3 separate regions of the Homo sapiens genome follow, and regions 1 and 2 are each linked to region 3. Evidence: fine-mapped expression QTL. A gene starts in region 3. Each other region holds a variant in brackets. All regions are shown on one strand. Distances are between the middles of the regions.

Region 1 (4,242 bases), 30 kb before region 3:
TTAGTGGAAAGATTTAGATATACTAACATTAAGAGACTTAAGATTATAAGCATAAAACGTTTTCTTTCTTTTCTTTTTTGAGACTGAGTTTTGTTCTGTCACCCAGGCTGGAGTGCAGTGGCACAATCTCGGCTCACTGCAAGCTCCACCTCCTGGGTTCACACCATTCTCCTGCCTCAGCCTCCTGAGTAGCTGGGACTACAGGTGCCTGCCACTGCGCCTGGCTAATTTTTTGTCTTTTTAGTAGAAACGGGGTTTCACTGTGGTCTCGATCTCCTGACCTCGTGATCCACCCACCTCAGCCTCCCAAAGTGCTGGGATTACAGGCATGAGCCACTGCGCCCGGCCAAAACATTTTCTTTATACTAATGCTAGTAGTAGTACTGTGCCCTAAGTCAGATACAACTGATTTACTGCATTGGTATCAATTCCTCACTGAATCGTAGCTAAGATTTTCAATTGTAAAATATTACTTGGAGGGTCAGCATTTATAACTCATTCCATTGTGTTTTTTTAAAAGCTGTACTTTCTGATGCAAAAATATAAATATGGTATACCTATATAAATATGGTATACCTATAGAGCTGTTCTTAGATTATATTCCACTTAAAAATATTAAACAATTGGCCAAGCGTGGTGGCTCACGCCTGTGATCCCAGCGCTTTGGGAGGCCGAGGCAGGCAGACTGCCTGAGGTCAGGAGTTCGAGACCAGCCTGGCCAACATGGTAAAACCTCGTCTCTACTAAAAATACAAAAATTAGCCGGGCGTGGTGGCACACGCCTGTAACTCCAGCTACTCAGGAGGCTGAGGCAGGAGAATTGCTTGATCCCAGGAGACGGAGGTTGCAGTGAGCCAAGATTGTGCCACTGCACTCCATCCTGGCTGACAGAGTGACACTCTGTCTCAAAAAAAAATAATAATAATTAAACAATTATATTTTAATTATATTTTATAATTTTAATATAGTATATATATATACTTACTTTTTAAATCAGTAAATGGAGCTATGATGGAGGAAAATCCTTCTATTTAGTCTTTTAGCTCATATCTCAGTAATATTTCTCCTTTTTTCCTCCAACGGTATCAATAGGACTTAAAAACACTATTCAGCACCATATTATAAATAACATGCAAATATGGTCTGTAATTTTCCTCTTCACAACTGTATCCCAGCACCTTAGACAGGACCTGGATCTAGTAATTAGGTGATAAAAAATTTGCTACATAAAGGAATATTTCAATAACCACACTGGTGCCTTTAAAATAACCCTTAGGCCAGGTGCAGTGGCTCACGCCTGTAATCCCAGCACTTTGAGAGGCTGAGGTGGATGGATCACTTGAGGTCAGGAGTTTGAGACCAGCCTGGCCAACATGGAGAAACCCCGTCTCTACCAAAAATACAAAACTAACTGGGCATGGTGGTGCATCCCTGTAATCCCAGCTACTCGGGAGGCTGAGGCAGGAGAATCACTGGAACCCTGCTGGGGGAGGTTGCAGTGAGCCGAGATCATGCCACTGCACTCTAGCCTGGGTGACAGAGCAACACTCTGTCTCAAAAAATAAATAAATAAAATAAAATAACCCTTAAAGGCAGTCCCAATACTCACACTGGTAATGTATTTAAAAAGGAGAGGACATACACTTTGCCAATACAATTTAAAATCATTCCAAGAACAGTTTTTAGATTAGAGATGAGTAAATACCATAGGGGCAGCTATATGATAATTTCACAAATGCACTGAGTAAAAAAGAAG[A/ATAGT]TACCAGAAAGTGGGACTGATTTCAGCACAGAGATAAACTTCTGGATGAGTTGTGAAAGAAATCTCCTCTCTTGATATGCCCTAAAATCAGAAAGAACATTGACCAATTATTTTTGAAGAATAGTCATTTCAAAAGTAAACTTTAAATGTTGACCACGGCTTTCCAATATTGTTCAACTGTTCATTTCTTTGTGAAGCTGGGACTATAACTTCAATATACAGCTTCTTCTTTCTATGTAAATACAGTGCTATATGAAGAAAAGGAGAGTCACATTACTGACCTAATAAGCCACCTAAGCAAGCACCTCCTTCTCTCACCGTGAACGTTTTCTTTTTTCTGCTTTTTTTGTTTTTGAGGTGGAATCTCGCTCTGTTGCCCAGGCTGGAGTGCAGTGGCGCGATTTCAGCTCACTGCAACCTCTGCCTCCCAGGTTGAAGCAACTCTCTTGCCTCAGCCTCTCGAGTAGCTGGGATGACAGGCGCCTGCCACCATGCCTGGCTAATTTTTGTATTTTCAGTAGAGATGCGGTTCCACCATCTTGGCCAGGGTGTTCTTGAACTCCTGACCTTGTGGTCCACCCGCCTCGGCCTCCCAAAGTGCTGGGATTACAGGCATGAGCCATGGCGCCCAGCCTGAGACACAGCTCCCAGCCAAACATTTTCATTTGTGATTTACAAGTCAGACCGAGAAAGAAGTTTCAAAATTCCATTTATAGTCTGCCCTTACCATTAAAAATCTCACATTTAATGTAGTTAAAATGAGATGAACAATATTATATTTTAACGTTTAAGTATAATAGAGTATTACAATAGCTAAAGATCAAATGTTTAAAAAATAATTTTCTATTCATTACTACTTTAAGATATATCCATTAATGAACAGACATGTATCAAGTATCGTACAGCTGTAAATGCTTGTAACAGTCCTGCTGGAAATACAAAGAAGGGGAACGGCTAAAATCTACTTGCAATAACAAGTCATATATTATAAACACAATTAGTAATACATGCCAGTATGTGATTAATAAAACTGCCTGACATTAATTAAGCACGCATTTTGCCAGGATCTGAGCTATGCTAAACACTTCACATCTTATTTAATATTGATAACAGTCCTCGGAAATGGGTACTACTGTCCAGATTTCACAATGAGGCTTAGAGGTGAAGTAACTTGCCCAAAGTCATACAGCAATTGAGTGTGGAATCTAGCTAAGTCTGATTGTAGAACCTACATCCTCAACTACTATACATATCCCAATCATTACATAAACAGCTGGTGTTTCAAAAAAAAATCACAGAGCATGTGTTCTAGGAGTTCAGATGAAAGCACTATGATCTAAAGTAGTTGGTCTGGAAGAGTGTTTATATGGTTAATATTCAATTAAGTGGAGTGAAGAGGAAAGGGACTTAGGAAAGAAATGCTAAAGAAGCAATGACTAGAGTAGTCCAGTGATTTGCAAGAGTCACAAGAAACAGCTGCAAGCTTCTGAAAACCTTGTAAGAAGTTTAGAGTTAGGCTGGGTGCAGTGGCTCACGCCTGTAATCCCCAGCACTTTAGGAGGCCGAGGCAGGCGGATCACCTAAGGTCGGGAGTTTGAGACCAGCCTGACCAACATGGAGAAACCCTGTCTCTATTAAAAATACAAAATTAGCCAGGCGTGGTGGCGCATGCCTGTAATCCCCTCTACTCAGAGGCTGGGGCAAGAGAAATCGCTTGAATCTGGGAGGCAGAGGTTGCAGTGAGCCACAGTCGCACTATTGCACTCCAGCCTGGGCAACAAGAGCGAAACTCCGTCTCAAAAAAATAAAAAAAGAGTGAAGGAGTAAGAAAAAGAAAGAGAAGTTATATTAATAGCCTGAAGATAGTGGAGAAAATTGAGAACCATCCATGAGGGAGACGGACAATAGGCAGGGAGAAAAACAGTGGGTCAACTATATATACTTAGCAGCACAGAAAGAAGGAAAAGAAGAAAAGCATGATGCTCTGGCTTCTGCTTTAGATCTTTGTGGAAAATATTCTTAATGACAGTCTAGGTAAAAGCACTTATTATAATAATTTATTTGCACTCAGCACTATATAAAGGGAAACAACAAACCAGTCAACATCATCTAAGGTCCACAATCCAGCATAATAAGCCAACATGAAATGAAGCTCTGCCAACATACTGTTCTCTTGCTTCTGGATCCATCTTTTCATCATTCTTTTTAATCAAGTTCCAGAATTTTCTTAGCTTAGGTGTCTTTTTTAATTCTAATTCCAATCGTGCCTGAAGAAGAGATGTGTTATTAAATTACCAGTAGCCTCAAAGTTTACAAGGATAAGGATTAGATCAACTATTTGCTAGTTTTCTAATATATGAGTACAAAATAGAGCAATCTGATAAAACCTGAAAATAACATGACAAACCCTGAAAATTAAGAAATGAATAACGATATTTTAAAAAATTATTCAACTCTAGCTCTTGTTAATAAAAATACAAATCAAG
Region 2 (4,242 bases), 120 kb before region 3:
CACAATGGAAATTAGAAAACATTTTGAGCAGAATGTTAATGAAAATGTGATACAGCATGTGGGATATAGCTAAAGCTGTGCTATGAACATATTATATATTACTTTTCCCAATATAAATCGGAAAATTCAGCTTTATAATGGACAAATTCCTAAGATAACACAACTTATCAAATCCAACACAAGAAGAAATAGTGTAGTCTTACATTGATAAATACATTGAATCTGAAATTTAAAATCTTCCCACAAAGAAATCTAGCCTTAGATTGTTTCACTGTTGAATTCTTCCAAGTGTTTAAAGAAGAAATAATATCAATGTTACAAAAAACACTTCCAGTGAATAAAAATAGAGTACTCAAAAAACAACAACAACAACAACAACAAACCCCCTGCTGCCTGTAATCCCAGCACTTTGGGAGGCCAAGGTAGGCAGATTTCTTGAGTCCAGGAGTTTGAGACCAGCCTGGGCAACATGGTGAAACTCTGTCTCTACAAAAAATACAAAAATTAGCCAGGCATGGTGGTGTGCACCTGTAGTCCCAGCTACTTGGGAGGCTGATGTGGGAGGATCACTTGAGCCCAGGAGGTGGAGGTTGCAGTGAGCCAAAATTGCACCATTGCTCTCCAGCCTGGGCCACAGAATGAGACCTCGTCTCAAAAAAAAAAAAAAAAAAAAAAAAAGGACTTCTCAATTTCTCAATTCAGTTTATGAAGTCACTCTAATCTTGATATTTAACCTGACAAGTATGGTACAATAATAATAATTATTATTCTGATAGACCAATCTTTCTCATAAACATAAATGCAAGAATGCCAAATAAAATACTAGCAAATGTAATATAGCACTTATAAAAAAAGATTAGGATTGTAAGGTTAATTTTATATTAATTGAAAAAAAAAAAGTCAACTTCTACTTCTGCTCATCCCAGTACATCCCACTATAATCAAGTAAAAGTGGACAAAATATATGAAGCAACTATTTTCAGACATTGACCAACAGGCAGCATAGTTTCGTCATCCTGGAGAGGAAGAAAAGGAAAAAGGTTAGCCCTGTGATTGCCCTGGCTTTTGCCTACAGGCAATTTTTGAAGAGCAGCACAGTTTGCCTTTACCTAGGGGGAACCTAAGTAGAAGCCCAGCAGTCTCACTGAATTTAAGAGACAGAAACTTGGGAAGACTGTGCTGGCTAGAATTTGTAAGGGATAGTAACTAAAAGGAGGAAGTTACACAAAGAAAGGTCTCCAGAAATCTAAAGAGGGGTCCCCTTGAGTCTTGGCTGAATACTAATCTGTACATGCATGGGGTGAAACTTCATGAGGTCAAAGGACAACTGCCTGGGAGCTCTACTAAACAATTCCTAGAGCTCATACAATAGAAAAGGTTTTAATTTATATCAACCCAAGTAGAAATACTTCATTGAAAACCTGGGGCATCCAAAAGGGGCCAGAGAAGGGTCATAGCTTGGTAATAGAGCTAAGTTAGCCCTAGAGTAAAGGTACTCTACACCTGTGTAACAAAGCTTAAAAACAAACATCAAAAAGGTAGATCTAATCCACATGTAACTGCCTGCCAAAACAAACCTCAACACTCTTTAAAGGAAGACAACAAAATCCAAACATCCAACAACACAGCACTTGTAATGTCCAGCATCCAGTGAAAAATTACCAGGCATGTGAAGAGTAGCAACTTATGGCCCTAATTAGAAAAAATTCAATCGATAGAAAAAATAAATCAATGTAATCCACCACATTAACAAAATAAAGAAAAGCATATGATTGGGGAGAGAGAGAATTGGGACAAATACCTAATGCATGGGGAGCTTAAAACCTAGATGACGGGTTGATGGGTGCAGCAAACCACTATGGCACATGTACAAACCTGCACGTTCAGCACAGGTATCCCAGAACTTAAAGTAAAATAAAAATAAATAAATAAAGGAAAGCATACGATCATTTTGATAGATATAGAAAAAGCATTTGTTAGAATTCAGCATA[C/T]GTTAATGATTAAAAAAGAAACACCTAGCAAGCTAGGAATAGAAAGAAGTTCTTAAAACCTGATACAGAGTGTATGCAAAAACCTATAGCAAACACTATACTTAGTGGTGAAATATTGAAAGTTTGCTCCTAAAACTGGGAAGAAACAAAGATACTTGTTCTGACTACCTCTTTTCAGCATTGTACTGGAGGCCTTCAAAAGGCCAATAATCTTACAGGTACAGATGGAACATTGATCTCCACTGAGTGTAAACAATCTAACCAGAAAGCTTTGATGCCTGTCAATTAATGTTGAAGCTTAAATTCTGGGAGTAAGACATGTTGCAGGGATGGAAGGAATGGATAATTAATATTTCTCTCCTCTTTCTCTCCCTCTCCTTTAACAGAATCTATACCAACCTCCTCATAAACCTTCTCAAGGGCAGCCATGTCCTCATTGGGCCTCAGAAAACCCTTCTTCTATGCCCCCCTCACGAATGTACCAGTGAACAAAGGCATGGTTGGCATACACCAGGTCAAAACTTGTGGTCCAGGTGAGCCCAGGTCTCAGCAAAGGCTGTGGTATTGCTCAGCATGCACACAGCTCTCTGTATCTTGGCCAGGTCTCCACCAGGTACCACCATGGGAAGCTCGTAACTAATGCCAACCTTGAAACCAGTGGGACACCAATCCACACACTGGATATTGTGCTTGGTCTTTATGGTGGTAAAGCAGCATTGACATCTTTATGGTGTCACCACAGTGCAACAGGCAGGAAGCCATCATTTGCCATGGCGAAGGTCACATTTCATCATCTGGTTGGCTGGCTCAAATCAAGCATTGATGATCTCTGCTCTAAAGCTCTTCATGATAGGCTTTCTCAGCAGAGATAACAGGGATCAGCATTCAGGAAGCCATCAACTCTAAGGGAAGCATAGAGGGCATAAACTGATGAATAAGGCAGTTAAAGTTAAAGAGACTTCACTAGCTATTGATAGGTTGAGCAATCAATATTGAGATTTCTATGACAGATGTCTACCACAAAGGAACACTCAGAGCGCTCCAGGGTAGTGTGGGTGGTGAGAATGGAGCTATAGGGCTCAACTACAGCTTTGGAAACCTGGGACACTGAGTAAATGAACTCCAACTTTGACTTCTTGCCATAATGAAGAGACAGACATTCTATCAGCAGGGAGGTGAACCCAGAACCAGTTCCCCAACCAAAGCTATGGAAAACCAAGAAGCCCTGAAGACTTGTGCACTGGTTGGCCAGCTTGAGAATTTGGTCCAACATGAGGCCAGTGATCTCCTCGCCAATAGTATAGTGCCCTTGGGCATAGTTATTGGCAGCATCTTCCTTGCCTGTGATGAGCTGCTCAGGGTGGAAGAGCTAGTGGTAGATGGCAACGTGAATTTTGTCAATGAATGTGGGCTCCAGGTCTACAAACACTGCCCTGGGCTTATGCTTGCCAGCACCTGTCTCACCGAAGATGTTAAAGGAGTCATCTCCCCGAGTGGTCTTGTCACTTGGCACCTGGCCATCGGGCTGCATGCCGTGTTCCAGGCCGCAGAGCTCTGAGCAGGGATTATCAATCTGGCCATCAGCCCGGCCAACGTGGATGGAGATGTGCTCACGCATAGTGGCTAGGGATTAAGAGACAAAGGCAACAGGAGCAGACACCAGGTCCCGGTCACTTCTCCTGAGAAGCTGAGTCAAGGTAACACACTCAGAAATCACACTTTTAAAACTATTATTACTTAACATGTTCTGCTTCTGCTTAAATATAAAATGACTTTAGGATAATTAGCATTTTTAGGCATACAGTATTACTTACCAGAGTCCCTTTCTATTATGTGTTTCTCATTCCTTTTTCAAACCAAAACAAATACTAATTTGTCTTTCTCCTGTAAGAATAAATATTGTAAACATTGGGACATTCTTTTTAGAGACCTTTTATTTTCTACCCTGATTTTGGCAACCTAGTCTTTTTGGTATATTGACCATAAGAGAAATTATTTAGTAGGCTTGTCTTACTCATGCACAGTTGGTGTTGTTCTGTTCTTTAATGTGTCTCAAGCAAAGAAATTTAAAGGGCAGCATGGTAAGAAATTTGCCTAAAAGTTACATGATGGTTCTAGTCCCTGTTCAATTAATTGTGGTGTCCCAGGCAAATCACCCAATGCCTTGGTGTTCTCATCTATAAAGTACTAGAGTTGTTTTTGGCATTGCTGCCTGGCACAGAGTTGGCATTCAATAGTCTGTTGATATACA
Region 3 (4,242 bases):
ATAAATGACTTCTACTGCAAAAATGCAGGTATATGGGGAAAGAGACCTCTAATCTCGTTTAAGTTGTCAGGAAAAGCCTCTCTAAAGTAGTGTAGAAGGCTGAGAATGAATAAAGGAAGGTGGGGAGAAAAAAAATGAGGATTCCTAGCAGAGGAACAATGTTGAAAAGCCAGGAGATGAAAGATAGCATGGCACATTCAAATAAACGAAGTTCTGTACAGCTAAGGCACAGAGTTAGAAAGGAAGAGGAAAAAGAGGAAACTGAAGATATAAGCACAGGTCAAATCACACAACACTATGAAGGATTTCAGCCGTTAACCTAAGGGTAATTAGAATTCTTTAAAGATTTCTTTTTTTTTGCTTCGTTTTTAGACGGAGTTTTGCTCTTGTTGCCCAGGCTGGAGTGCAATGGTGCGATCTTGGCTCATTGCAACCTCCGCCTCCCGGGTTCAAGCAATTCTCCTGCCTCAGCCTCCCGAGTAGCTGGGATTACAGGCATGCACCACCAAGCCTGCCTACTTTTGTATTTTTAGTAGAGACAGGGTTTCTCCATGTTGGTCAGGCTGGTCTCGAACTCCCGACCTCAGGTGATCGACCTGCCACGGCCTCCCAAAGTGCTGGGATTACAGGCATGAGCCATCGCGCCCGGCTGAAGATTTTAAGGACAGCCAGCCTTAGTGTAGTCCCTGTAGTCCTAGCTACAAGGGAGGCTGAGGTGGAAGGCTCACTGGAGCCCAGCCAACATAGTGAGACCCTATCTTGAAAGAAGAAAAGGAAGGAAAGGAAGGAAGAGATTTTTTTTTTTTTTTGAGACGGAGTCTCGCACTGTTGCCCAGGCTGGAGTGCAGTGGCGCGATCTCGGCTCACTGCAAGCTCCGCCTCCCGGGTTCACGCCATTCTCCTGCCTCAGCCTCCCGAGTAGCTGGGACCAAAGGCACCTGCCACCATGCCCGGCTAATTTTTTTTCTTTTTATTTTTAGTAGAGACGGGGTTTCACCGTGTTAGCCAGGATGGTCTCGATCTCCTGACCTCGTGATCCGCCCGCCTCGGCCTCCCAAAGTGCTGGGATTACAGGCGTGAGCCCCTGCGCCCGGCCGGAAGGCAGAAATTTTAAGAAGGCAAGTGATATGATGAGATTTGCACTTGTATGAAATCACTCGGAAAGCAACATGAAGAATGGGCTAGAGCAGAGCAAGAGGAAGGACAATATAACAGATTACGATACCTTGGTCCAGGCAGAAAACAATGGCAACCAAGCTTAGGGTGACAGAGATGTAGAACACCAGATAGATTCAAAAGATATTTAGAATGTAGAAATGTAGGGACTAAGGGAAAGGGAGGATTCAAAATCACTCCCTAGGCTTCTGCCCTGGCAAATCTGTTGAGACAAGGAATAAAGAATAAAGAAGCAGGTGGGCATGATAACTTCTACATTGAACTACTTACACTCTTATGCAATTCACAAATAAATAATAAGAATGAGGAATGATGCTGACAACCACAGGACTGTGGTTCCCTATCCAAAGCCAACTGTGGCTCACAATGCAAGATAGTAAACAGATTCTAAATGAACGCTCTCAAACTACAGAATTACTCTGTTTTTAGATAGGTCTATTTGGAGGTGTCTTGTCAGTTTCTCATCGCTGCTCAAAAACTCAGGACACTCTAAGGACCAGGAAAAAGCCTACTCCTACTTGAAGAGGCAGTCCAGCATCACTCTGCTGCGAAGCCTACTTGCCAGTCTCAGATAGACTGGGGTGTTCCCTCCTCTCTGAATCCATTGCTCCTGAGACAAACTCCAACACAGCAAAACTCATACAGTAGTTTTATTTTCATGCGTCTGTCTTCCTTGGGCCATGAACTCCCCAGGGCAGGGCAGCTTCTTTCACCACGGTATGCCCAGCACCTAGCATAGTGGCCGGCACGGAGCTGATACTCAGTAAAAAGACGTGTGTGAATCAATTAACAAACGAATGCCTCCTCCGGACTCCTAAATCCTGAAAAAAAACCCCACCACCAGGCCTCGGGGCCACGACGTCCATACCCACTCACACACACCAGACTCGCCCGAGCTCACCTGGGTCACGAACTCCGCATTGATTTGGGACACCGTAGGGGCCACGATCTTCTTGGGCTGCGCAGGGGCTGCCATGGCAGCACTCTTCCCTCCACTCCAGTGGAAACTAAAGGACCGCTCTGGGCAGCGGCAACCCTGGTCCACTTCCCTTAAGTTACTGCCGGGGCGCTTAACTCCGCGCCGCACAAACGCTCCGGGCCGGATATCCTCAGCCTTCAGAGTCCCGTAGGGAACCCGTACAACAGCCCAAGCGTTCCTCGGGAAGCGGAATGGCGTGTAGCCGGAAGTTCATGCAGGCGTTGGGGCTGAGCTAGCGAGCCAAGAGCTTTGACCTCCTCTGTACACGCCCTCTAGCGGGCGGCAGAGAGAAGACACCTCGCTGGCGGGATTAGGAGGGCAAGGGAGGGACCCGGTGGATGGTGTTGGGTGGGGTTTCTCGTGGTTAGTGAAGAGTGCCGTGTGCGGTGAATGGGGATTTAGTTTTTTTTCAACCCTAAAGAAAAAACAAAACAAAACAAAAAAAACAGCCTGGGAATATGGGCTGGGTTTTAACTGCCCTTAACAGTGTTTTAGTTTAGTTTTGTTTTTTTTGAGACGGAGTTTCGCTCTTGTTGCCCAGGCTGCAATGCAATGGTGCAATCTCGGCTCACAGCAACCTCTGCCTCCCGGGTTCAAGCGATTCTCCTGCCTCAGCCTCCCGTGTTGTTGGGATTACAGGCATGCGCCACCATGCACAGCTAATTTTTGTATTTTTAGTAGACACAGGGTTTCTCCGTATTGGTCAGGCTGGTCTCGAACTCACCAACTTTAGGTAATCCGCCTGCCTCAGGGTCCCAAAGTGCAGGGATTACAGGCCTTAACAGTTTTATGGAGGTAAAAATTGACATACAATAACCCAGCCAGGCGCGGTAGTCACGCCTGTAATCCCAGCGTTTTGGGAGGCTGAAGCTGGCCGATTGCCTGAGGTCAGGAGTTTGAGACCAGCCTGGCTAACATGGTGAAAACCCATCTCTACTAAAAAACAAAATTTAGCCGGGCGTGGTGGCGCGCGCCTGTAGTTCCAGCTACTCGGATTCAGGAGAATAATCACTTGAAGCTGGGAGGCGGAGGTTGCAGTGAGCCGAGATTGCGCCATTGCACTCCAGCTTGGTGACAGAGCGAGACTAGCCTCAAAAAATAAAAATAAAATAATAATAAAAATAATTCACATACAATAACCCACACATATTTAGGTTGTAAAATTTGATGCGTTTTGACATGAACATACATTTGTGAAACTATTGCCAAAATCATAATGAGCATATCAAAGCCTCTAAAAGTTTCCTCGTGAACTTTTGCTATCTGTGCCTTTCACTGTTCCCACCCACTTTTCAGGCAACCACTGATCTGCTTTCTGTCACTATAGTTTGCTTTTCATGGAATTTTATATAAATGAAATAATACAGTGCATGCCTTCTTTCACTCAACGAAATGATTTTGAGATGGATTCATGTTGTTGCATGTATCAGTAGTTCATTCCTTTTTTATTGCTTAACATTCGTTCCATTTTACTGATATACCACAGTTTGATAAACTATTCATCTGCTGATAGACATTTGAGTTGTTCCAAGTTCTCAGTTATTACAAATAAAGCCACTATGAGCATTTGTGTATAAGTCTTCATGTGGACATATACTTCCTTTGCTCTTAAATACTTAGGAGTGAAATATTTGGGTTATACGATAGGTGTGTTTGTTTGTTTGTTGTTTGTTTGAGATGGAGTCTTGCTCTGTCGCCCGGGCTGGAGTGCAATGGCGTGATCTCGGATCACTGCAACCTCTGCCTCCTGGGATCAAGAGATTCTCCTGCCTCAGGCTCCTGAGTAGCTGGGATTACAGGCAACGCGCCATCACACCTGACTAGTTTTTGTATTTTTAGTAGAGACGGGGTTTCACCATGTTGGTCAGGCTGGTCTTGAACTCCTAAGCTCGTGATCTGCCCACTTTGACCTCCCAAAGTGCTGGGATTACAGGCATAAGCCACTGCACCCGGCAAGTATATGTTTAAGTTTTTAGAAACTGCCATCTTTCTAAAGTAGTACTATTTTACATTCACATCAGGAGCATATAATTCTAGTTTGTTCTCCACCTCGTCAACACTTAATATGGACAATTTTTTTTAAATTT

Which allele goes with the higher level. Alleles are on the strand shown, and positions count from the first base shown. SD is a standard deviation of normalised expression in the study named. Not every link is listed here.
For the expression in subcutaneous fat of the gene that starts at base 2,281 in region 3, allele ATAGT in region 1 goes with a higher level than allele A (small effect, 0.29 SD a copy in GTEx).

What was found. PIP is the estimated chance that this variant, and not a neighbour inherited with it, causes the effect.
Region 1: its variant is the best candidate, but not a certain one, in a credible set for the expression of AQR in subcutaneous fat (GTEx, PIP 0.63).
Region 2: its variant is the best candidate, but not a certain one, in a credible set for the expression of AQR in monocytes (TOPMed, PIP 0.54).

What each region holds. Positions count from the first base shown.
Region 1 is chr15:34,936,977-34,941,218 of GRCh38, forward strand. AQR (aquarius intron-binding spliceosomal factor) reads right to left here. Exons shown (of 35, transcript NM_014691.3): 8 at 3,923-4,023; 9 at 1,761-1,837. Among named protein-coding and RNA genes, the nearest start is that of AQR, 31 kb to the right of the region's middle. The variant A/ATAGT (reference allele first, on the strand shown) is at 1,757.
Region 2 is chr15:34,846,787-34,851,028 of GRCh38, forward strand. It overlaps the pseudogene TUBAP11. Among named protein-coding and RNA genes, the nearest start is that of ACTC1, 53 kb to the left of the region's middle. The variant C/T (reference allele first, on the strand shown) is at 1,992.
Region 3 is chr15:34,967,462-34,971,703 of GRCh38, forward strand. It overlaps AQR (aquarius intron-binding spliceosomal factor), which reads right to left and starts at 2,281. Exons shown (of 35, transcript NM_014691.3): 1 at 2,078-2,281. The coding sequence starts at 2,152. RefSeq lists enhancers at 342-906, 2,075-2,224, 2,275-2,384.